Linked DNA regions of Homo sapiens. The protein of the gene in region 1 interacts with the protein of each later gene in a biochemical or structural test. Each region holds a gene or a part of one and is shown in the gene's direction. Other genes may lie near its edges. The genes, in order: ERCC6 and ERCC5.

What was found.
Region 2: the proteins of ERCC6 (region 1) and ERCC5 interact in far-western blotting, tested with the Homo sapiens proteins (one study listed by BioGRID).

What each region holds. Positions count from the first base shown.
Region 1 is NC_000010.11:49,528,954-49,538,468, reverse strand, and holds part of ERCC6 (DNA excision repair protein ERCC-6), read left to right. Parts: intron 1-5,490; 5' UTR 5,491-5,504; coding exon 5,505-5,926; intron 5,927-7,628; coding exon 7,629-7,749; intron 7,750-9,515. UniProt on the Homo sapiens protein: Involved in repair of DNA damage following UV irradiation, acting either in the absence of ERCC6 or synergistically with ERCC6. Involved in the regulation of gene expression.
Region 2 is NC_000013.11:102,847,679-102,860,949, forward strand, and holds part of ERCC5 (DNA excision repair protein ERCC-5), read left to right. Parts: intron 1-4,439; coding exon 4,440-4,615; intron 4,616-6,078; coding exon 6,079-6,194; intron 6,195-6,609; coding exon 6,610-6,696; intron 6,697-8,373; coding exon 8,374-8,434; intron 8,435-10,596; coding exon 10,597-10,740; intron 10,741-13,271. Other genes in the region: BIVM-ERCC5 protein, read left to right, coding at 4,440-4,615, 6,079-6,194, 6,610-6,696, 8,374-8,434, 10,597-10,740. UniProt on the Homo sapiens protein: Single-stranded structure-specific DNA endonuclease involved in DNA excision repair. Makes the 3'incision in DNA nucleotide excision repair (NER).

The sequences.
Region 1 (9,515 bases):
TTTTCTCCTCAACTTTTCCCATCATCTTCTTGTTGCTTTGTCTCCTCCAATCCATTATCCGCACAGTTGTCCAGGTGGTCTCTGGCATAAAGTAGGTCATGCCATCATCAGCCTACTTAACAGTTTTCAGAGTCATTCCATTGCACTGGGAGTGGAATCCATGCTCGTGTTTTCCCAGGCCTTGTGTGATTTGGCCCTTGCCTGTCCCCTCTCAGAACTGTGCCTGTGTCCGACCAACCCTCCAAATGAGACCCAGCTTGCCCCTGGCTGCGGGAGCCCCAGTGATGGGGGAGGACGGTGAAGATACTAGTGTCCCAGATGATTAAGCCTTAGAAGATACTCTGCAAGACTTAGGCCATGAACGGAGCCCTTCTCTGCTCTTCTTAACTCAAAGTTAAAAATAAAGTCAAAAATTCGGTGTTCCAGCCTTCTTGCATTTTCACAAGTGCATCAGCTCTTTCTAGTCTTAAAAGTTACGCACGTTGTTGGGAGGCCGAGGTGGGTGGATCACCCGAGGTCAGGAGTTCGAGACCAGCCTTACCAACGTGGTGAAACCCTGTCTTTACTAAATACGAAAAATTAGCCGGGCATGATGGCATATGCCTGTAATCCCAGCTAATCGGGAGGCCAAGGCAGGAGAATCGCTTGAACCCGGAAGGCGGAGGTTGCAGTGAGCCTGGCGGAGCCTGGCGGAGGTTGCACTCCAGCCTGGGCAACCGGAGCGAAATTCCGTCTCAAAAAAAAAAAAAATTTCACACGTTGTTTCCTTGCAAGACGTTCACTTTACTTTCGACCTGACTGACTTATCAGATGTCACTTTATCAGAGAGGCCTCCTTGACCCCACATCTACCTCCACAATTTCAATTTGGTTTCTCTCATTTTGTCAGAAAGCCTTGTACTTTCCTCTTAACAGCAGTCACCACAATTATATTTGTGTGTGTGTGTGTGTGTGTGTGTGTATGTGTATATATATATATATAGTTTTTAAATGTCTGTTTTTCCCATGAGACTCTAAGCTCTTTGGGGACAGGAATTAGTTAACCTAGTACATTGCCTGGTGTAATTAACTCTCAGTAACTATTTGTTAAATGTATGATTTCTTTCTTTCTTTTTTTTTTTTTTTTTGAGACGGAGTCTTGCCCTGTCGCCCAGGCTGGAGTGCAGTGGTGCGATCTCGCTCACTGCGGCCTCCGCCTCCTGGGTTCAAGCGATTCTCCTGCCCCAGCCTCTCGAGTAGCTGGGATTACAGGCGCGCGCCTCCATGCCCAGCTAATTTTTGCATTTTTAGTAGAGACGGGGTTTCACTATGTTGGTCAGGCTGGTCTCGAACTTCTGACCTCGTGATCCTCCCGCCTCGGCCTCCCAAAGTGCTGGGATTACAGGCATGAGCCACCGCTCCCGGCAAATGTATGATTTATTTCACTTCTGAAATTCTTTAACCTGATAAGAGCCTTCTGGTTTCCAACTCTCACTTCCAGAAGACTTGGTTTTCTGGCCATTGCCAGATACTAAGTGACTTCTTGAACCCTTTCTCCCATTTCCAGGCCCCTTCTGTTTTTTTGTTTGTTTGTTTTTGTTTTTTTAAACCTACCCAGCTTGGACCCTGAAGTCAGTTGCTTCAGCTACTCTTCTCAGCATCTTCAACCCCGTGACTCTTTTGCGCTACCATTTCTGCTCTGAAAACCCTCAATAGTGACATTTCCCCCAGGACTACTGAAGGAGGAGATTGTTCAGCCCTGGAGATTGTTAGCAGTCTATGGCTTTGCAGGGCTGGGGAGATCCTCAGGTAGGTCCTCCACAGCAATCATCAGTGTTTGTTCCCTGTCAACTCCCTTTTCTCTTGTACAGGACATTTATTCCAGACTCTTAGTCTTTAGCCCCAGTGCCAACTTTGTCTCCTGACTCAGGAACTGCCCAACTTGCTGCTTTGTGGGATATTTTGTCTGTAATCCACTTCAGCTTCCCTCCTTTCCACCTGCAAATTTAGATCTATCAGGAATCCTCCTTCTGCCAGAGTCCGAGAAAGATGTGTTGTGCCTCCTGTTCATTTCTGCTTGCGACCTTCCACTTTTGCTGTCTCTTTTGGTACACCTTTCTGGGTTATCTCCTCTGTCTCCCTCCAGCCATTACGTGCTCTAGTTTTTCTTGCCCTAGTTCTCTCCCTACCCCCAACAAATCCATTATTACTTTATCACTGTAGCTGTCTCCCTGCCAGAGGCAAGCTCTTTAAAGGACAGGCCACTCTCTTGTGGCCTCCATTTCCTCATCCACTCCTTACACACCAACTACATTTCAACCACTACAGTCTGGTTTTTGGCCCTATCGCTCCACTGAAACTTTTTTATTTTTTCGAGACAGAGTTTCACTCTTGTTGCCCAGGCTGGAGTTCTGCGGTGTGATCTCAGCTCACTGCAACCTCTGCCTCCTGGGTTCAAGCGATTCTCGTGCCTCAGCCTCCCGAGTAGCTGGGATTACAGGCATGCACCACCACGCCTGGCTAATTTTTGTATTTTAGTAGAGATGGGGTTTCACCATGTTGGGTCAGGCTGGTCACGAACTCAGGTGATCCACCCGCCTTGGCCTCCCAAAGTGCTGGGATTACAGGTGTGAGCCACCAAGCCTGGCCTGAAACTTCTTTTACCAAGGTAAATGGTGACCCATTGGTATCCAAATTCACTCAGCCTTTTCTCATTCACTGGACGCTCTTCCTCCTTTTTTATTATTAGAAGTTTTCCCCAAACTTCTTTATTTTTAACCTTGTCTTTACACTACAATACTATTGCTTTTTGATATTATTTTACAGAAATAGAAAAATGGTTACTTAATATTTTTGGTTGAATTGGCATCCTTTTTTCTTAAAAAGAAATCCTCATGTGTGTACAAATAAGAAAAATGAAAACAGAATTGTTAACTGCCAGCTAGTACAGACACTCTGAGCTGGAATCCTGCTCTCTCTGTTGGAAAGTGAGGTGAGCTGAGCCTTCCTCTTGAAAATAATCAGCAGGCCCCAAAAGAAGGAACTTTCTCACTGTGTTGTTCACTTTTTAACCTTTCCAATGTTAGCCTCCTCGTACCCTCCAAAATGACCTTAGGTACCTGTCAGAGCCTTGGGAACCCTGGAACTGCTCACTCTGCTGATGTGTCCACATGTCACCCAGACTTTCCCTTGAGCTCAGATTTGCATTTCTGACTGCATGCTGCAAATGGTACTGATTACATGTAAGCTGCTTGCCAGTCCTGCTTCCTATCTGCTTCCTTTTTGAGAGTCTCATTTTTGTGACTGAATTCACTGGTGACTCATTTGTCCAGACCAAACTTTTTATTATTTTAGACTTAGCTCTGAACCTCACTTCCTTTCAGCAGATATTGAGCACCTCCTATATATCAGACCATGCATGGCCCATGTGTTCAAATCTCAGTTCCTCCGTGATATTTCTTGGGCCCCAGACACCATATATAGTTCGCTCGATGCTCGTGTGACCTCTTGTCCGTGTCCCGGGCTAGCTGACCTGCCCTGCTCTGTTGTTAACTGACATGCTGCTGCTCCAGTGGATAGCCACTCGGGTGTAGATGATGCTGAATTCTTTGTATCCCGGTGCTTTATTGCTGGGCTTATTTTACTTAATAAGGGATGAGTGGGGCCCACTGGGGGAACTTGTCATTTAACAGAAAAGTTACAGTGCTCAAAGAAATCTTATTCACAGTTAAACAAAAAGCAAGACTGATTTTTGGTTATCGTTTTGCTTTTTAATATATTTATTAGATGTGATAGTTGTATAGGTAATATAGTGAATATATTCTCCTTAAAGCAGCAGGTCCTGAGTATGTGGAGTACAATGTGAACATTCCCCCTTATTTTTCCCTGTGCTTTCTCTTCCCCATCCTGATTTGCAGGCTTAGTTTGTATCCTGCCAGATCATTCTGTGTGCAGGATAGATACTTTTTTCAGCATAAGTGTGTTCATACCATGAATTTTTTCACTTAACATGGCTTTTATATCAGTATACAGAATATACTTAGTAGTTACATTAAACTATTAAAAATGTGCTGCACTAAACATTCTTGCACCTGTGTGTGACTAGTTCTCTGGAATAAATACCTAGAATTGCTTGACAAAGGTCATGTGCCTTTAATTTAATAGATATTGCTAAGTTGTCCCTACAAGGGGCTTTACTAATTTATATTCTCAGCAGCACTATGTGAGGGGGGATCCTTCTCCTTGTCTGTATTGGATTTATCTATCAGGCTTTGAATTCTTGCTAACCTGATGGGTGAGAAATTATACTGTGTATTAAAATGGAGTTTTTTTTTTGTTTTTTTTTTTTTTTTTTTTTGAGATTGAGTCTCACTCTGTTGCCTATGCTGGAATGCAGTGGTGAGATCTCATCTCACTGCAACCTCCGCCTCCTGGGTTCAAGTGATTCTCCTGCTTCAGCCTCCCGAGTGGCTGGGATTACAGGTGCTCACCATCATACCCAGCCAATTATTGTATTTTTAGTAGAGATCGGGTTTCACCATGTTTGCCAGGCTGGTCTCAAACACCTGACCTTAAGTAATCTGCCCGCTTCAGCCTCCCAAAGTGTTGGGATTACAGATGTGAGCCATCGTGCCCAGCCTATTTTTGAGAATATTTTAATTAATCTTTTAAAAAAACTTTAAATTTATTTTACAAGGTCTTGCTCTTTTGCCCAGGCTAGAGTGCAGTTGTGCAATCATGGCTCACTGCAGCCTCCATCTCCCAGGCTCAAGTGATCCTCCTGCCTCAGCCCCTTGAGTAACTGGGACTATAGGTGCACATCACCAGGCCTGGCTAAGGTTTTAAATTTTTAGTAGAGACAAGGTCTCATTATCTTTCCCAGGCTGGTCTCGAAGTCCTGAGCTCGCTGTGTTTCCCTGGCTGGTCTCTATCCTCCCGCTTTGGCCTCCCAAAGTGCTGGGATTACAGGACTGAGCCACGTGCCTGGCCTAATTAATCTTCTGAGCTTCTGATTTGTTCAAAGCTCCTATTTACTGGATAGGTATTCAGCCTAGGAGTTTCTAGTCTCAGATTCACACAGAAGCTCTTTCCTAACATCGCTGTTCCTATGCATTACAGTTGATCTTGCCACTATATTATAAATCATTTGTGTCATAATGAAATGAAGATGCTAACTTGGAAAACAGCAGCCAAATGACTTCAGCTGTTTTGAAGAATATTCCATGGCCATCACCCCAGGATTTTGGTGGCTGGCTTTCTTAGCTGGCTGCCTAAATGTCCTTTGTTGATGATACTGCATTTCTTTTTCTGGTTAATTTTTCTTATTTATTATCAGAACTCAAGAAGATACGTTGTCCCTTTTTAGTAAATTAATACTTGGAAACTTGAATTTATGTAGTTGGAAGATTATTACTTGATCTTTTGAGAAATCAGTCTGCTCTAATTATAAAATATTTAAGAACTACAATGAATCCTATATAACGAAAAGGCTTATAAATTTTTTTCCTTTTAGGTAGTCTGTAGAGAATGCCAAATGAGGGAATCCCCCACTCAAGTCAAACTCAGGAGCAAGACTGTTTACAGAGTCAACCTGTCAGTAATAATGAAGAAATGGCAATCAAGCAAGAAAGTGGTGGTGATGGGGAGGTGGAGGAGTACCTCTCCTTTCGTTCTGTGGGTGACGGGCTGTCCACCTCTGCTGTGGGGTGCGCATCAGCAGCTCCGAGGAGAGGGCCAGCCCTGCTGCACATCGACCGACATCAGATCCAGGCAGTAGAGCCTAGCGCCCAGGCCCTTGAGCTGCAGGGTTTGGGTGTGGACGTCTATGACCAGGACGTGCTGGAACAGGGAGTGCTTCAGCAGGTGGACAATGCCATCCATGAGGCCAGCCGTGCCTCCCAGCTCGTTGACGTGGAGAAGGAGTATCGGTCGGTCCTGGATGACCTCACGTGAGTGCAGCCCATCTTCTTCCTTTCAAAGTGGTGGTAAAACATGACAGGGATATTCAGGTAATGGAAAGCTCTAGTATTCCAGAAGTTTAGGAGATGTGTAGAACCTTTTATTTGGAGGACAGAGTCAATAAGGGCAGTCCTCAACCTCATCTTTGAGTCCCAGCCCTTCCCCTTAGGAGTGGCATTGTACATGGTAGTTAGAGTCTCTGTCCAGCTCGTGAAAGCCAGTTGCATGCATAATGTCCAGAAGAGAAGGGCTGTTCACCAGCATGTGCACAAAGTGATCTCAGGAGAGGTGCACCTAAATTCAGGTGTTTCCTATTCGAGATGCCAGGAATACATTGCGCCCCCTTCACATTTTTCTCTGTGCGGTAGCTTCTTTCTAGCTTACTGTCCCCAAACTTAGTGTTCAGTCCTTGGGCAATTTTTCAGATTTGCATTTTTAGAAATAATAAAGACTCCCCGGTTTTCTTTTCTTCCATCCTTGTTCTGACTCTGGAAATGGAGATTTTATTTGTGTCTTAGAGAGGGAGAAGACTTGAGCTGTTTTGAGCATAGCACGTTAATGGGGAAGAAGGGGAGGCTGTAGACCTGAGCAAGGGTAGGAGGTGAGGACAGGAGAGGGGAAGTGGGAGGGGTTGAGCTCACTTATCATTGCTGCTTGGCCCCCGTTGGGCAGTGTTCTGGGCAGTGTCAGGTAAGCAAGAAAGAAGGCGAGGGCTGAACGGGATGGAGGATGGAGCAGTGTCACAGAGGATAGCTGGGGAGGGTGGAGTGTGGCGCTGTCATGAATGTGGTTGTTGGTACTTCAAAGACATGTTTTCTGCTAACCATTCCCTGGTGTGTTCTTTTGGCCTCCTCAGGAGCAGGTGCTCGTTCATGGTTATAGTCTGAGTGTTGAGGACCTCAACTCTTTGTAATGATACTTTTACATTTGATCTTGGAAATGTGTCCTCTTTCTCCAGAGGTGACAGAGGAGAGTTGTGGGGTCTCCATGCAGAGTGATGCTAGATGGCTGGTGGCATGTGGTGTCTCAGCCAGTAATACGCATTGTTTATCCTGTAATCCACAGAGGATACAAACAGCAAATTACACAATCATCAAGAAGATTGAATTTGTGTTTTGAAAATTGGAAGCTACAATTCTATGGTGTCTATTTTAGGAGTAATTTATTTTAAATTGATTTGTTTTCTTTGCACCACAAAGTTTAGTGCTGTAGTAAGTGAATCTTCCATTTATGTAGAAGAAAAATATTGTCGCAGATGTGTGATTTATATAAAAAAATGTTTAAGCATATTTAGGATGCTTCCAGACTTTGGAAGGCTTCCGTAACGGGCTTAAAAAACCCATGTATGCATTTTTTCATGTAAAAGGACAACTTATTGCACATTGTTCTAGCATAGTGTGTTGAATAAAGTAGGCACTTAAATAATGCTTGTAGAATGACTGAAGCAGCTTACAAATGGGAATGAGCTGATCTAAATCAGCTAGATAAAAGAAAACACTAGCAGTCATCTTAAACCTCTAATGATCCTACAAGTTTTATTTGTGGCCAATAAGGGTATGTATTCTGGTTTAGTTTCCTTTATCTTTTAGTTAATAAGAAGTAAAAGGGACATGTTTTTAGCATTTTTCTCTTTATATTATGCTATAAAAATGTTATCAGAGTGCAAAATAGACAATTTATCTTATTTTTCAGGTCATGTACGACATCCCTAAGGCAAATCAATAAAATTATTGAACAGCTTAGCCCTCAAGCTGCCACCAGCAGAGACATCAACAGGAAACTAGATTCTGTAAAACGACAGAAGTATAATAAGGTGATTCAGAATAACATTCAGTATTGCATTTTTGAAAAAGTCATCATTTAGGGGCACTTAATTTAGGAAGTATTTTAAAAAGTGCTTATAAGATGTGAAGCAAATACTTATAATTACAATAGAGAAATTTTGGGTTTCTTTTGTATGTTTAATCTTTCTGCTGTTTTCCTTTAACATCCCATTCTATTGCATTTAAAAAAACACACATACATAGACACACACATCCATACGTATACAGTTGCTCCTTGATTTACAACAGGGTTACATCCCGACAAACCCATCGTAAATTGAAAATATTGTTAGTCAAAAATGCATTAAATACACTGAAAAACCTATCTTAAAGTCAAAATATTGTAAGTCAAACCATAGTTAAGTCCAGAGGCTCCTCAGTTTATAATGGGGTTATGCCCTGATAAACCCATCACAAAGTTGAAAAATTGCAAGTCAGACCATGATAAGTTGGAGACCATCTGTGTATTTGAGAAAAGTTCCTTTTTGGTGTTGCTTGCCTCACTTGGGCGCACTTCCTTAGTTTTCCTGCATCACCATTTCTTTGGCCTGGCTTAGGGTCACACTGGCCTCAGTCTCCTGGTCTCCTGTGAACTCTTTTCTGCTTAGCCCTTGCTTCCTCTAATTGTCTCCACTCTGTTTCTTGGTGGTGCAGCCATTGACCCTCACACACCTTTGCTGACAGTTGCGAGAGCTTGGCCCTTCCTCCCACCTTGGGTGTTACAGTCAGCACCCAGCCACACTGGGGTTGTACTTAGCTTTGGAAAACTTAAGGGTAGGGAATATTTGTTACTTAGGATATTATTTTTATGAAGTTTGAAACTTTTTTTAAGGATTTATGTACAGCTTTGTGAGGTCTGAAACATTTTTTATGATTTATGTACCCCTTTGTGAAAATACATTGCAATAGATAGGAATGACTAGCTGTAACCATTTCAGTTCTGCCATCCCAACTTGTGCTTACAGTTGATTCACTGCAGTGAGTAGAGTCCTTGCATCTTTTCTTTAAGCTCTCCAGGGGCAGGGCTGTGCGTTGGTTCAGTTCACGTGGCCCTCCTTTTATTATACTTTCCACTCACCAGTCTGTTACCTGCACTACCCCATCTTCTCTCACTTGCTTCCAGAATAGCAGCCCAAAGGTCAAAGCTAGCAGTTGCCCAAGGCAGGTGGGTCCTCCCAAATCAGAGAGAGGACATCTGGTCTCTTGTGGGAGCATGTGAAATTGATGTGCAGAGACCTTCTTGGGCTTCTAGTGGGCTGGAATTTCAAGGGTGTAGAGCATCAAACTTGAGACCACTTCAGGTCCTAGTCTAACTTAATTATGCATTCTTGTCTTTAGCAGCTCTTTGATGGTTAGAGGTAGACTATTCAGAGGGAAAGTGCTTTAGACAGAATGTTGCTGAGAGAAAAACTGAGAAAAAACAAATTGCAAGTCATTGCAGTGTGGCATTTATGTTCAGGATTTCCCCTTGTCCCACACTCGTATTTGAAGTTGAAACATTCTTGACCTTGGAAAGATGAACCAGGTACCACAAGCCCAGTTCATTGGGCCTCCCCAGTGAAGCCCAAGGGCACATATCTGAGTTCTGGTGATGTGGAAGGGAACAAGACAAAGAGGAGTCTGGCGTGGCCAGGGTGGAGAGGCATGGCAAGATATATTTTTTTCTTAAAGCTTTTTGATTAGGTAGAATACTAAAAGGACAGTCATAAATATAGTAGGTTATCAAAGGAGACTAACTTTTTCAATTGAACATTTG
Region 2 (13,271 bases), on another chromosome or scaffold:
TTTTGTTTTGTTTTTTGTTTTTTAGAGCACATGCGCTGTTGCTGCCCTCAAGCTGTTGCTTAGTATCATTGCAGTCTAAAGATTTTCTCAGAAATAAAGGGTAAAGGTTAGTTTTCAGTGACAAGAACCCTTAAAACTTCAGCAAAGATTTAGATCATTTTATGTAGCAGCCCTTGTGAAGAATTACTAAAGAGGACTGTGGCCAGGCTCAGTGGCTTACGCCTGTCATCCCAGCACTTTGGGAGGTCAAGGCAGGAGGATCATTTGAGCCCAGGAGTTCAAGACCAGCCTGGGCAACATAGTGAACCCCTGTCTACACACAGTCAAAAAATTAGCTGGACGTGGTGGCCTGCACCTTTGGTCCCAGCTACACGGAAGGCTGAGGCAGGAAGATTGCTTGGGCCCAGGCGGTCAAGGCTGCAATGAGCCGTGTTCATGTCTGTCTCTGAATAAATAAATAAAAAGGACTGTGAAAGACATTCTAGTCATGACAACCTCATATATTTATAATAAACTCGTTTATGTCAAAGGAGTATATCTGATTACTTGTTCTACAATCGGTTTTGCTTTATTTCATTTTCACGGGAATTCAGACACCTGAAATTATTTAGATTTTATTGTATTGTTTGTTAATGACAAACTTACCCGTTATTATACTAGTTTCATAATTTACTCTTGTATCTCTATACTAAATTGTTTGGTCTTTAAACCATCTATATAGCTTAGTGTCTTATTTATACAGTCTAAATGTCTGTGTCAAATAATGCAGAAGTAAGTTAAACTTTTGTCTCTTATAGATTTTAATGTTTGTAATATGCGTTTAAGTGTATTAGCAAGATATTACCATCTCTTTAGGCTATGTATACTAATGGAGATTTTTAAGTCACCTAACTAAAGAACTAAAGAAACTTATTTTTTGTATTGAAATGTTATTGGTCTTTGGGTCTTATACCGAAAGTGATTTTTGGCTTTGCTGCAGATTTTAACTTTTCTGTCCGCAGAAATTTAATTTTGCGTATATAAACTTACTGAAATTAGACAAGTCAAATTATACAAATATTTTCAGATTGTCTCATTTTTCATATTTCTTGTCTAACAATTTATGTGAATATTTTCAGGTCGTCTAATTTTACATATTTCATCTCTAAGAATTCAAGCCAAAATTCTCAACCCTAGCTGAGAATTGGCATTACCTGTAGTTAATTGAAAAATAAAAAATAAAAGAAGTCCTACCTCAGTCTCTATGATTTAGAATTTTAGGCCCATGGGGTTTAATAATCCGTATGTTTCAGAAGCTTCATATCCTATTCTAATGGATAGCAGGGATGAGAGCCACTGATCTGAAACTAGATTTCCTCACTGAAGTTAAAGTTTAAAGTAGTGGGCCAAGTAGAAACTAATTTAATCCTATGTAATAGTGAGCTTCATGGCTTTTCCAGACTATACTTGTAGCAAGCAGAAACATCGATCTAATACAAGACAGATGCACATCAACACCAAGTTCTACCTCTGAGATGTATCTTTTATCCGATCTCTTCTCGTGGTCTCCACCACTACTGTCTGCGTTAACTTGGGCTATTGTAACTCATTTTAGAACTGGTTTCCTTATAATCTGTTCTTCACATGTTCATCAAAGTTATCCTTAAATCATGTTCTAGAAACTTCCCAGTGGCCGTATCACCTCCTGCCATTCCTTTTGTCCTGCTGCACTGGCTTCCTGGAGATAGGGACCGTCTCTGTTTTGTTCATGGCTGAATTGTTTGGTGTATATCCCTAGGGTCTTGGATATGCCTGGCCCATGGTATTGCTAAATATTATAGAAATAAGCATAGCAGTAGCTTGCTTTCCACTAGGTATTTTGTTACATAGTGTTTTGTAAATTAATTGTTGATGGACCTACATTTTTTTTTATGTTAGTAAAAGTTAGGCAGTGTACATTCATTTAAATACTAAACTGTTCAACTTATTTAATAGCAGATATTTATTGTGTATAAGAGTCCCTGTGAAAGGGAGTGCAGTGCACAAATTGCCCGGGCAAGCCATGGAGCACACAGGCTGGGTTTTTTCCCTGCTAGATTATAAACTCCATAGGGCCAATACTGTGTTTTGTTCAGTGCACTGGATATGCCAGTGCATAGAAAAAATGCTGCCACATAATAAAAACAGAAATAACGTGATAGGTGGCCCCTTCAATGTTCTTTTCCTATGTTAGAAATTTACCTGCAAATATTAGCATCAGTCCAGGTTTCTCTCTGTTTTTTTTTTCTTTTTGTTTTTTTTTGAGACAGAGTCTCCCTCTGTTACGCAGGCTCGAGTGCAGTGGCGTGATCTTGGCTCACTGCAACCTTCGCCTCCCAGGTTCAATCGATTCTCCTGCCTCAGCCTTATAGGCACACGCCACCATGCCTGGCTAATTTTTGTATTTTTAGTAGAGACAGGATTTCACCATTTTGGCCAGGATGGTCTCGATCTCCTGACCTCAGGTGGTCTGCCCGCCTTGGCCTCCCAAAGTGCTGGGATTACAAGTGTGAGCTACCGCACTCGGCCTCAATATATTTTTTAAATAGGAATGTATACAAGGAGGATGTCTTCATCTAGACTGAGGAGGGGACCCCTGGACTGAGACCTTAGAGTAGGAGAGAACTAGGCGGAGAGAGGGAGAAACTGTTTCAGGCAGAGGAAGCAGCATGTGAGAAGAACCTGGAGGCAGGAAGGAGCTTAGTGATTTCTGGGTTTGAGGAAAGCCCAGTAGCAGGAAGTGAGCAGAGGCCAGATCATTCAAGGCTTCCTAGACCAGGAGAAGAAGTTTTAGATAGTATCTTGAAGGCAGTGGGAAGCTTTGGAGGGTTTTCACCAAAGATACGTTGGTGAAATCTAGTATATACCTTCAAGATACATTAGAAGATAGAATTGATAGACCTGGTAATAGCTATAGGTGGTGATGCCCAGCATTCTGGCTCAGGTGAATGGCAGGGACATTCACTGAGATGGGGGCATGAGCAGCTGAGTGGAGAAGACATGGAGTTCAGTTTTGATCATGTTAAGTTTGAAATGTCTATGAGGTATGGGGTAGAGACGTCATCTGGGCTCTCTGTTCTGGGGTCAGGAGCGTGCTCTGGGCCAGACATATACATGGAGTCAGGGCGTGGTGTATGTGGAGGGGAGTGGAGGTTGATAGTTCAGACAGGAGGAAAGAAGAGGGCCTGAGAAAGATCACTGATGAAGTGAATACTTTAACAGTGTTACAGGAGCTGGCAAAGAGTCTGAGAGCAGGAAAACCAGCAGAGCGCGGTGTCACTCTTTCTTTTGGACAAATATAACATTTTTTGAGAAGCACTTTTTAGAAAAGTTTAAAAATATAAGAAAACTTCAAGATGAAAATATAAGTTATCTTTAGTCTCAGCAGACATAATATCTACTTTAATATTTTGGTATGTGAACTAGTTTTTTATATTTAACATATATACTGTATCAGAAAATGGAGTTATACTTTATATGGTTTTATAGCCTGTTTTACTATCTTTAATAATATTTAATGACTATCTTCCTTATCACACATGCTCCTGCAACTTCCATTTTTAAGGGCTTTTTGGTATTCCAGCAAATAGGTCTGCCATAATTAGTTTTTCTTTTTTGAGACGGAGTCTTGCTCTGTCACCAGGCTGGAGTGCAGTGGCGCGATCTCGGCTCACTGCAACCTCTGCCTCCTGGGTTCAAGCGATTCTCCTGCCTCAGCCTCCTGAGTAGCTGGGACTACAGGTGCGCACCACCATGCCCAGCCAATTTTTGTATTTTTAGTAGAGATGGGGTTTCACCATGTTGGCCAGGATGGTCTCGATCTCTTGATCTCGTGATCCACCTGCCTCGGCCTCCCAAAGTGCTGGGATTACAGGTGTGAGCCACCGCGCCCGGCCTATGATTAGTTTTTTAAAAAGACCTGCTGGAAAACTTTTAAGTTGATTTTTATATTTTCATTATTATAAACAAGCATTCTGTAAATAACTCTCATTATATATCCATGATGATTTTCTGAGGATCAATGTCTGGAAGTGGTAAAATAGACTGCAAAGTTTTAAAAAGTTTTTTTCACTATGAATTGTCAAATTGTCCTCCAGAAAATTTGTGCTAATTCATGAAAATTCTTTAGCAATCACTTATTTTTTTTTAAAGAAGCAATTCTTTGCAATGAGACTTCTTAAAAGGATATGTCTGTCTTTGTATGATTTTAAAATGCAGTATGTGAATAGGGGTAACAAGAGTTCAACTAAAAGTTAACTGACTTTAGGTAGATCCCATGAGAGCTAAATGTTTTTCAATTTTAAATGAATAGTGATAAGTATTTAGTGTTCAACGTTTGGATAATATCAGTTATTAGGAAATTGAAGTTGTGAGGATGAAGAGAAAAATCCCGGAGTTTTTTCCATTAACAATTCTCCCAGATATTAGCATTTGGTTAAACCAAGCACTTAAAGGAGTCCGGGATCGCCATGGGAACTCAATAGAAAATCCTCATCTTCTCACTTTGTTTCATCGGCTCTGCAAACTCTTATTTTTTCGAATTCGTCCTATTTTTGTGTTTGATGGGGATGCTCCACTATTGAAGAAACAGACTTTGGTAAGTGTCGTATAGTTTTTAGTAAGTGTCAAATAATTTTTTTCTTTCTGCATTCTTAGAAAAATTCACATAAAATTTTTGTTTTCTCTTTAGAATTTTAGAAACAGACTTATTTTGACACATACTTAATTACATCTACTTTTTTATCTTGAACAATTAATTTTTCTTTTAAAAAGTTTTATGAGAGTTCATCATGGGTACAATGATAAAATTTAACTTTTAAATAAAACTAACTACTAAAAACCTTGCTGTTGAGAGTTTTCCCTTCAGAGGATCTTGTTAGGTGTTTTATATTTATTTCAAGGATGCGGCCATCACTCAGAACACTGTGGAAACCCTCTTTTGGGAAGTGCCTCCCTGAATCTGAGATCAAGTATCCTCCGTGATAGCAAGCCTTCTTTTAAGGGGAATTGGATTTTAGGAGTAAGCAATGTTATGTGGTGCCAAGTGGTGACTAAAGTGGATTATCTAGGAAGGAAATTGACCATGATATAGAAGAGTCAGAATGAGTTGCTGCTTTATTGTTCTGGAAGTAGTTTTAAAAAATGTTTTTGGAAGGCCGGGGGCAGGAGGATTGCTTGAGCCCAAGTCCAGCCTGGGCAACACAGGGAGACCCCATCTCTAAAAAAATGACATAAAATAATGTTTAAACAGTCCAAATGACAGCACCCATTTGGATATATGACTTTTATTTGTTGAAAATACCAAAGTAATGAAATGATGACTTTGTAATCATACCAGATACTCTCTAAATGAGGATATAGGATAAAAGTAAGGATATAGGATAAAAATAAAAAGCATTTATAAATGCTGGGGGACCTTTGTTGCCTCAGTAAGAGTGTCTAGTCTTGAATGTTGCAGTTTTCAGTTACCCAAGGCATACTGTAAATCAGGTACTTTGTGGAAGGATTAGAAAGGAAAAGAGAATATCTTGGTTATTTTTATCCGATATTCAGCCATAAGCACAGGGACTATCCATTTGTCACTACTTGAACATTTCTTACAAGATATTTCTATACATTTTAGAATTTCTCATGATATATAATCTTGAATATTGAAGGGCAGAATTACATGTAAGTAATGCATGTTTATAAAAAGCAATATTAGAAATTGTTTTTGGTGTCACTGTGACATTTTATAGAATAAATAAATAATTTCTTTTGGGAAGCATTTAAGCTTTCCACTTCTTGGGCATATTAAAAGACATTTAAAAGAAACTGAAAGTAAATTAAGTTTCCCAAATATATTGTGTAGTAGCCCATTAAGTAATAGATGGAAACTCTGGGTGTCCTTTACGTAGCAGCAACCTGAAGATATACACTGATATGGCAATTAGGAGGAAATGCTAAAGCAGCCATAGTCTGAAAACTCAGACAAACCAAATTCTCTGGAAAATAAATCACAGCAATGTTTCTAGTGGTCTAATATCCTGAAGTGAGATCTTACATCCTTTCTTCTCATAGGTGAAGAGAAGGCAGAGAAAGGACTTAGCGTCCAGTGACTCCAGGAAAACGACAGAGAAGCTTCTGAAAACATTTTTGAAAAGACAAGCCATCAAAACTGCCTTCAGAAGCAAAAGGCAAGAGGAAAATTATAGTCGTGTTAGAGATGAAGTTTTAAAAAAGTGATTTTTGTCTTGATTTCCTGCGATTCTCTTTCCCTATCTAATTTTGACTCTCAACAGAAAATAGAGAGTGAAATGAGACAAGTAGGCTGCCATTTTGACCTGGTAATTTGGAGTTGTGGCAATTCTCCGTTCTGTGAGAATCAACTTTGCTAATGAGAAAAAAAAGCTGTCGTGTTGCGTCATGTACACTTTTTACTTTGATTATGGTCTTCTTGACTCTAGGTGAGCAGCCCCGCCAAGGTTCCTTCCTTTCTCTCGGCTGCATTTATTTTCCACAGCAGTGGCCTGAGAGCAGCCAGGTCAGGTCCCTGTTCACCATCCTGAGCAGGGTCTGCATAATCTGTTTAAAGATTTGTGTACTTTCCAGAGATGAAGCACTACCCAGTCTTACCCAAGTTCGAAGAGAAAACGACCTCTATGTTTTGCCTCCTTTACAAGAGGAAGAAAAACACAGGTAAATGTTTAACTATTTAAGAATATTATTTTAGTCATTGCTACATTCAGACACATTTAAACCTTGATGTGTTATCTACATGATAAGGCATGTGAACATTTCTTAATGCATCTGAAATAGGCATGCTCTATACCTTTCAGAATATTTTTCAAAGACTAAATTTTTTATTTACTATTCTTTGTGTTTTGGTGATTCATGATTCTTATTCCTCTTCATTCTAAAGAACTTCTGCCAGGGCTGTGGATTCTAAATTCTCCAAGGCATGAATTTTAGTTTTGCTTACACTTTGCTTACACATGCTGTCTCTAGCTGCTTTTCAATCCAGTATGGTCTCTCTCACCATGATGCTAAAATACCACAACCCATGACATTCTTGTTGCTAAATCTAGCAGACGCTTTGCACGTCTTAGTGTGCTCGACTTCTCTGCACTAAACACCATGCCACACTGCCCCGCTCCCCCGGCATCTCTCTGGCGCTTTCTGCTCAGCCTCTCTGTGGACTCCTCTTCCTCTGTCTCTCTCTTAATGGTTGGTGGTTTCTGTGTTTGAAGTGAAGGTGGAGAACCGGAAGCTTGGCAGTTTGCCTTTGTCCCCTGTCCTTCCCTCCACCTCTTCCTTTCCCAGGAGTTCCCAAGAGACAACTTAGCTTTTGTATCAGCTCAGTTCTATTTGTCTCCATTGCTACCACTGTCATTTTTTCTCCAGGTTACATTATTAGCTTTTAAACTTCTTTCTGTCTTTGTCTTTGATCATACCCTTTTTGTAATAGTTCCTCCCACCAAGCCCAATCTCTGTTTTGTGTTATAGTCTGTTTAAAATCCAAATCTGATATTGTCATTTCCTTACTTAAAACACTTTCTAGCTTCTCCTTCTCATTTTTTTCTTTCTTTTTTTTTTGAGATGGAGTCTCTGTTGCCCAGACTGGAGTGCAGTGGCACAATCTCAGCTCACTGCAACCCCTGCCTCCTGGGTTTAAGCGATTCTCCTGCCTCAGCCTCCGGAGTAGCTGGGATTACAGGCACGTGCCACCACACCTGGCTAATTTTTTGTATTTTTAGTAGAGACGAGGTTTCACCATGTTGTCCAGGCTGGTCTCGAACTCCTGACCTCAAGTGATCCACCTGCCTCGGCCTCCCAAAGTGCTGGGATTGCAGGCGTGAGCCACCACACGCAGCTTAGCTTCTCATTTCTTTAGGATAAAACTTTAACTCCTTAATTACACTTTCCAGTCTTATCCCTGCCTTTCTTCACATCATCCACAGGCAGGCTTTCTTTTCCTTGTTTCTATATGGTCATACAACTTAGTTCTTTTGCCTGGAACACTCTTCTCCATGAACCTTCCCGCTCCCTACAACTACACTCATTAATTCGTGGCTAACTCCAACCAGTGTAATTGCAGGAGATCCTGGAAAGCTTTTGTGACTCCTAAATTGGGTGAGGTGACTCCCTATTGCATCTCTAGTGACCTGCCCTTCCCTTGTGGTGGAAGTTATTAGATCCCACTCTAATTGCTTACTTACACGTGTCCCCCACCAGACCATGAGACCAGTAGTGGCACAGATCTTGCTGTTTTATTCACCACTGTAGCCCGTATAACGAGCAGAGCCTTGCATACAAGTATTTTTGTAAGGGGTCCTTAAAAATCATAGATATCGTAAAAGTATGTTTGACTTTCAGTTCAGAAGAGGAAGATGAAAAAGAATGGCAAGAAAGAATGAATCAAAAACAAGCATTACAGGTATTTAGATCATTTTTGAATTCAGAATGTATTCTGTTATTTGAAATGAATGACATGAAAATGAATATTAATGAGGTATATCAAACTGTGAAAGTTCCTGATAAAAAGTAAAGACAGATGGCTTTTTGGTTGTGCATATATATGTGTACATGTATGTATTTAAAACACACTCACCTACACACGTGTATATATATATATATGGAATTTGCCATTATGCACATCTATATATTCAAAACAAGCTATTTTTCTTTTACAACCAACCAACCAATAGTAATATGTGCTTACATAGAAAATATAGAAAACATATCATTCATAAATAACTTGTAATAACAGTTTGATATATTTTCATCCATTCTTTGCCTGCCCCATATAGTTGAATATCTGTGTGTGTATTTGTATATATGTATCAAATGTGCATGTGTACATATATATGTGTACACATATGTGTGTATGTTCTAGTTATCTGTCGCTGTGTAACTTAGTGGTTAAAACATCATTTGTTATCGTCATCTGTCTGGGTTCCAGGGGTAGATGAGCTCAGACAGGCAGTTCTCTCTGGGGTCTCTTGTGTAGATGCAGCCAGTCTGTAGCTGGGGCTGGAGTGATTAACGAGGTTTCCTTGCTGCCATGGGCGGTGGTTGATGCTGGCTGTCAGCCAGTCTTCCATGCGGCCAGCACCAGAGCACCTACTTGTGGCCTCTCCACGTGGCCTGGGCATTTTCCCAGCATGATGACTGTATTCCCAGTGTGGGCATCCCAAGAGAAAGTTCTAAGCAGAAGCCCTGTTGCCTTTCTGACCTAGCTTTGGAAGTTGTGCAGCATCCTTCCCACTACATCCTGTTCCTCAGAAGCTAGTTACTGCCCTATGGAAGGGGCAGAGAGTTAGACAAGAAGAATGTCCCACACATATTTTCATGAATAACATTTTTACAAATTGAGATTATGCTGTATATATACATTTTTTTCATAAACATTTTTCAAGTTTCTTAGTGTCACAGATAGCATTTTTTGATTCCCAAATTCACTGTTTCTTGTTTGTTCATATGGTTTTGTTCTATCAGGTAGAAACTTTTGAGCTAAAACCTCGAGATCCTTCAGGTTGCGGAGGTGCTGTGCTATTAATGCAGCTAGTGAGAGCAATCTTAGTTAAGACCATGGGCCTCGTGGTCAAAAAGACCTGCGTTTCAGTCCAGGCTCCACTGTTCACTAGCTGTGTGATCTTACACAGATTAAATTCTCCAAGGCTTTATTTTTTTTTGTAAAACGAAATTGATATCAATGCCTTCCTGATGGGGGTGATGGGAGCATTAGTGAGGGAAAGCACAGGAAATGCTGAGCGCAGTGACAGGTCTGTCCTACGTGTTTGCTGGTTGGTACGTACACATGTAACATACAGACATGCAGGACATCAGGTTGTATTAGCTTATCTTTTTTACTAATGAAGGATTTTAAAGTACTTTTGGTAATGAGTTAAAGTTGAGAAAAGTTTTACACTTTTCCATGTCTTCTGTGAATTTCTTTTAATTTCATTTCTTATGTTATAAGCAAAATAAAACTAACTTAATTATGGGAATGATATATATTGCTTGAATTCCTAAGGCACATTCTGTCTTGGGTTCTTGCATTTTCTGTTCTCTCAGCCTGAAATGCTCTATCCTCAGTGAGGCTCTTTGATATCTTCCAAGTCCCTGCTCACACATCCTCTTTTTAGTGGGGTCTTCTTTATCTATCAAATAGATCTTTTTTTCCACGTTCTGTTCATGTAATCACTCTCATATCAGATAAATCTGCTTTATTTTACCATTATCTTGTTCATTTATTTATTTATTTATTGTCTTCTCTCCTCTGCTCCTAAGAGCAGGGACCTTATCTGGCACCTTATCCGATCTCACAGTACCTTAGCACCTAGAACAGTGCCTGGTGCCTTAGAGGTACCTGCTAAGTATTTTTTTCTTTTGAATGAATTAAAGAGTGAATGGCTACATTCCCTAATTTGCCTACTCACTTTGTTGCCTGTCACAGATTATATGCAACTGTGTTTAGCCAATTGTTGATTATGTAGAACTGTGTTTATTATATAAACATAATACATATCCTTAATGTTGAATAGAACTAAGTGTATGAAATGTAAATTTCATGGTGCTGTGATTTTATCTTTACAGGAAGAGTTCTTTCATAATCCTCAAGCGATAGATATTGAGTCTGAGGACTTCAGCAGCCTGCCCCCTGAAGTAAAGCATGAAATCTTGACTGATATGAAAGAGTTCACCAAGCGCAGAAGAACATTATTTGAAGCAATGCCAGAGGTGAAATATGCAACAGTACATTCATGCTTAGAATTAAGAACTTCAGCAAAACTTTTTATTAGAAAGAAGAGAAAATTGATAAGCAATACTTACACGATATCTCAGTTAACAGTAAACAGCATTTCTACATCTCAGATTCTAAGAAGCATCGTATATTTATACGTTTGAGCCTATAGACATTTACTCTAAGAAGTTTTTCTTGACTTTTGACCCGAGACTAGGTCTTTTTTCCTGGTCTTTGTTCTCACAGCACCCTGTAATATCACTTCATAGTTCTTAGTTCCAAAACACGCTTATCTTGCTCACCTCTGTATTTTCAGTGTCTAGCTCAGTATTTTTCACATGGTATGTGTCCAGTAGATGCTTACTGACTCAATTCTTAGGTTAGGTCATAAAAGTTATTGTAACCTATAATATACATTGTCTATAAAAACTAATAGTCATATAGAATCTAATCACAATGGAAAAATAAGTTCTAAATTGAAATTCCAGGTATATCTTCCTCTGCTGCAGCCCTAGAGATGCCATTGGCTCTCCACATTCCCTTGCCCTCTTCCTGGACAGTGCGAATGGGGCTTCTTCACCTTGGAACATCTTGTAGCTTGGCAGGCCCAGAAAGCTAGAGTGGAGGTGGTATGTGCAGTTGGGTGCTAGCAAATGTGTCTCCTGATCATGCTGCCATTGATACTTAATTCATGTTACTATTGATGACTCCCTGTCTTAGTTGCCAGTGAGTGAGTTCTTTTTCTCTTTCTGTTGCTGCTACCTGTTATTTCTACCGTAGTTCTCCATTCACCCACTATAGGACAGAATCGAAATTTTGCAGCATCATCGACCTTAGTGCATAGATGGAGTGTTTTTTTATTTTCTACAATTTTTGAATATTGCTTAAATTGATAGCAGAAATATGAAAAAGGAAGGGTAAATTTCTTTTCTCATCACTCCCTGTTTTTTCCACAAAGAATGTGCAGTAGCACACACTAAGGTGCACAGAAGTGACATTCTTGGGTCTTTGGATATACAAAGGACAGAAGTAAATTGATTTTTATTTCAGGAGAAAAATCCAGGCTCAGTCTGTCTATCAGGCATTTTATTTCTTGAGTATGAAAGGATCTCTGGCTGGCAGTTGAGGAAGTAGAATTTTGGTTGTGTAAACAATAACAGGAAGAAATGGGAGAAAGAGAGACAGTCCCTAATGATTTACTGTTCTTTATTTTCTTTCTGCAACCATGAAGTCTCTGGAAGTGGTGGACTGTAGGGTGGTGTGGAGTAGCAGCTTACTGGATCTGTAATTTTGATAGAGATGTTCTAAGTCATCCATGTTGGGCCTTTGTGTGATCTGTATGTCGTGCAAATGTAATATTGATAATAGTAGTGATGGTAGGTAATAATAGCAGTAGTAATAATCATAATACCATAGTTCCACTTTACTCACGGTTTGCAGTTTTCAGTGACCTGTGGTAAACTGTGGTCTGAAAATATTAAATGGAAACTTTCAGAAATAAACAATTCATAAGTTTTAAGTTGCACACCATTCTGAGTAGAGTGATGAAATCTCACACCCTCCTGCTCCATCTTGCCTGGAACGTGAATCCTCCCTTTGTCTAGCATCTCCGTGCTGTAGATGCTTCCTGCCTGTTAATCACTGAGTAGCTGTCGCGGTGATCAGATCAACTGTCGCGATATTGCAGTGCTTCTCCTCAAGTCACTCTTATTTGACTTAATGATGGCACAACAGTGCAAGAGTATGATGCTGGCAATTTGAATATGCCAAAGAGAAGCTGTAAAGTGCCTCCTTTAAATGAAAAGGTGAAAGTTCTTGAATTAATAAGGAAAGAAAAAAATCGTATTCTGGCTGAGGTTGCTTAGATCTGCATAAAAATGACTTTTCTATCTGTGATATTGTGAAGAAGCGAAAAGAAATTGGTGCTAGTTTTGCTGCCGTACCATAAACTGCAAAAGTCATGACCTCAGCGTGTGATAAGTGCTCAGTTAGGATGGAAAAGCCATTACATTTTGGGGTGGAAGACATGAAGAGAAACATGTTCTGATTGATGACAATCAGGTTTGGTACTTCTGCAGTTTCAGGCATCCTCTGGGGGTCTTGGAACATACCCCAAGGATGAGGGGGCTGTCTACTATGTTAATAGAATCAATTGTAGTAAATTGACATGCTTTTGATCCCAGATCTACCACTTATTAGCCCTGTGACTCTAGGGAGGTTACCTAACCTATTTAAGTCCCAATTTCTTCATTTATAAAATGGAGGTGATATCTGTTTCATAGGATGATTGTGAGAATAAAATGAGGTATTATATGTAAAAGCACTTAGAAAAATGCCCTCCATGGGAAATGCCTTATAATGTTAAGTATTACTGTTAATAACTGTGATTACTGTGATTTATTGTGTCTTTTATGGGATAAGGTTGTGCAGGACACTTCACTTGCATATTTACCTACATTCTAGAAGATTGTTAAGCCATAATCAGATGTCATAGTGACTGCTATGCATTACATGCTCAATACATGTT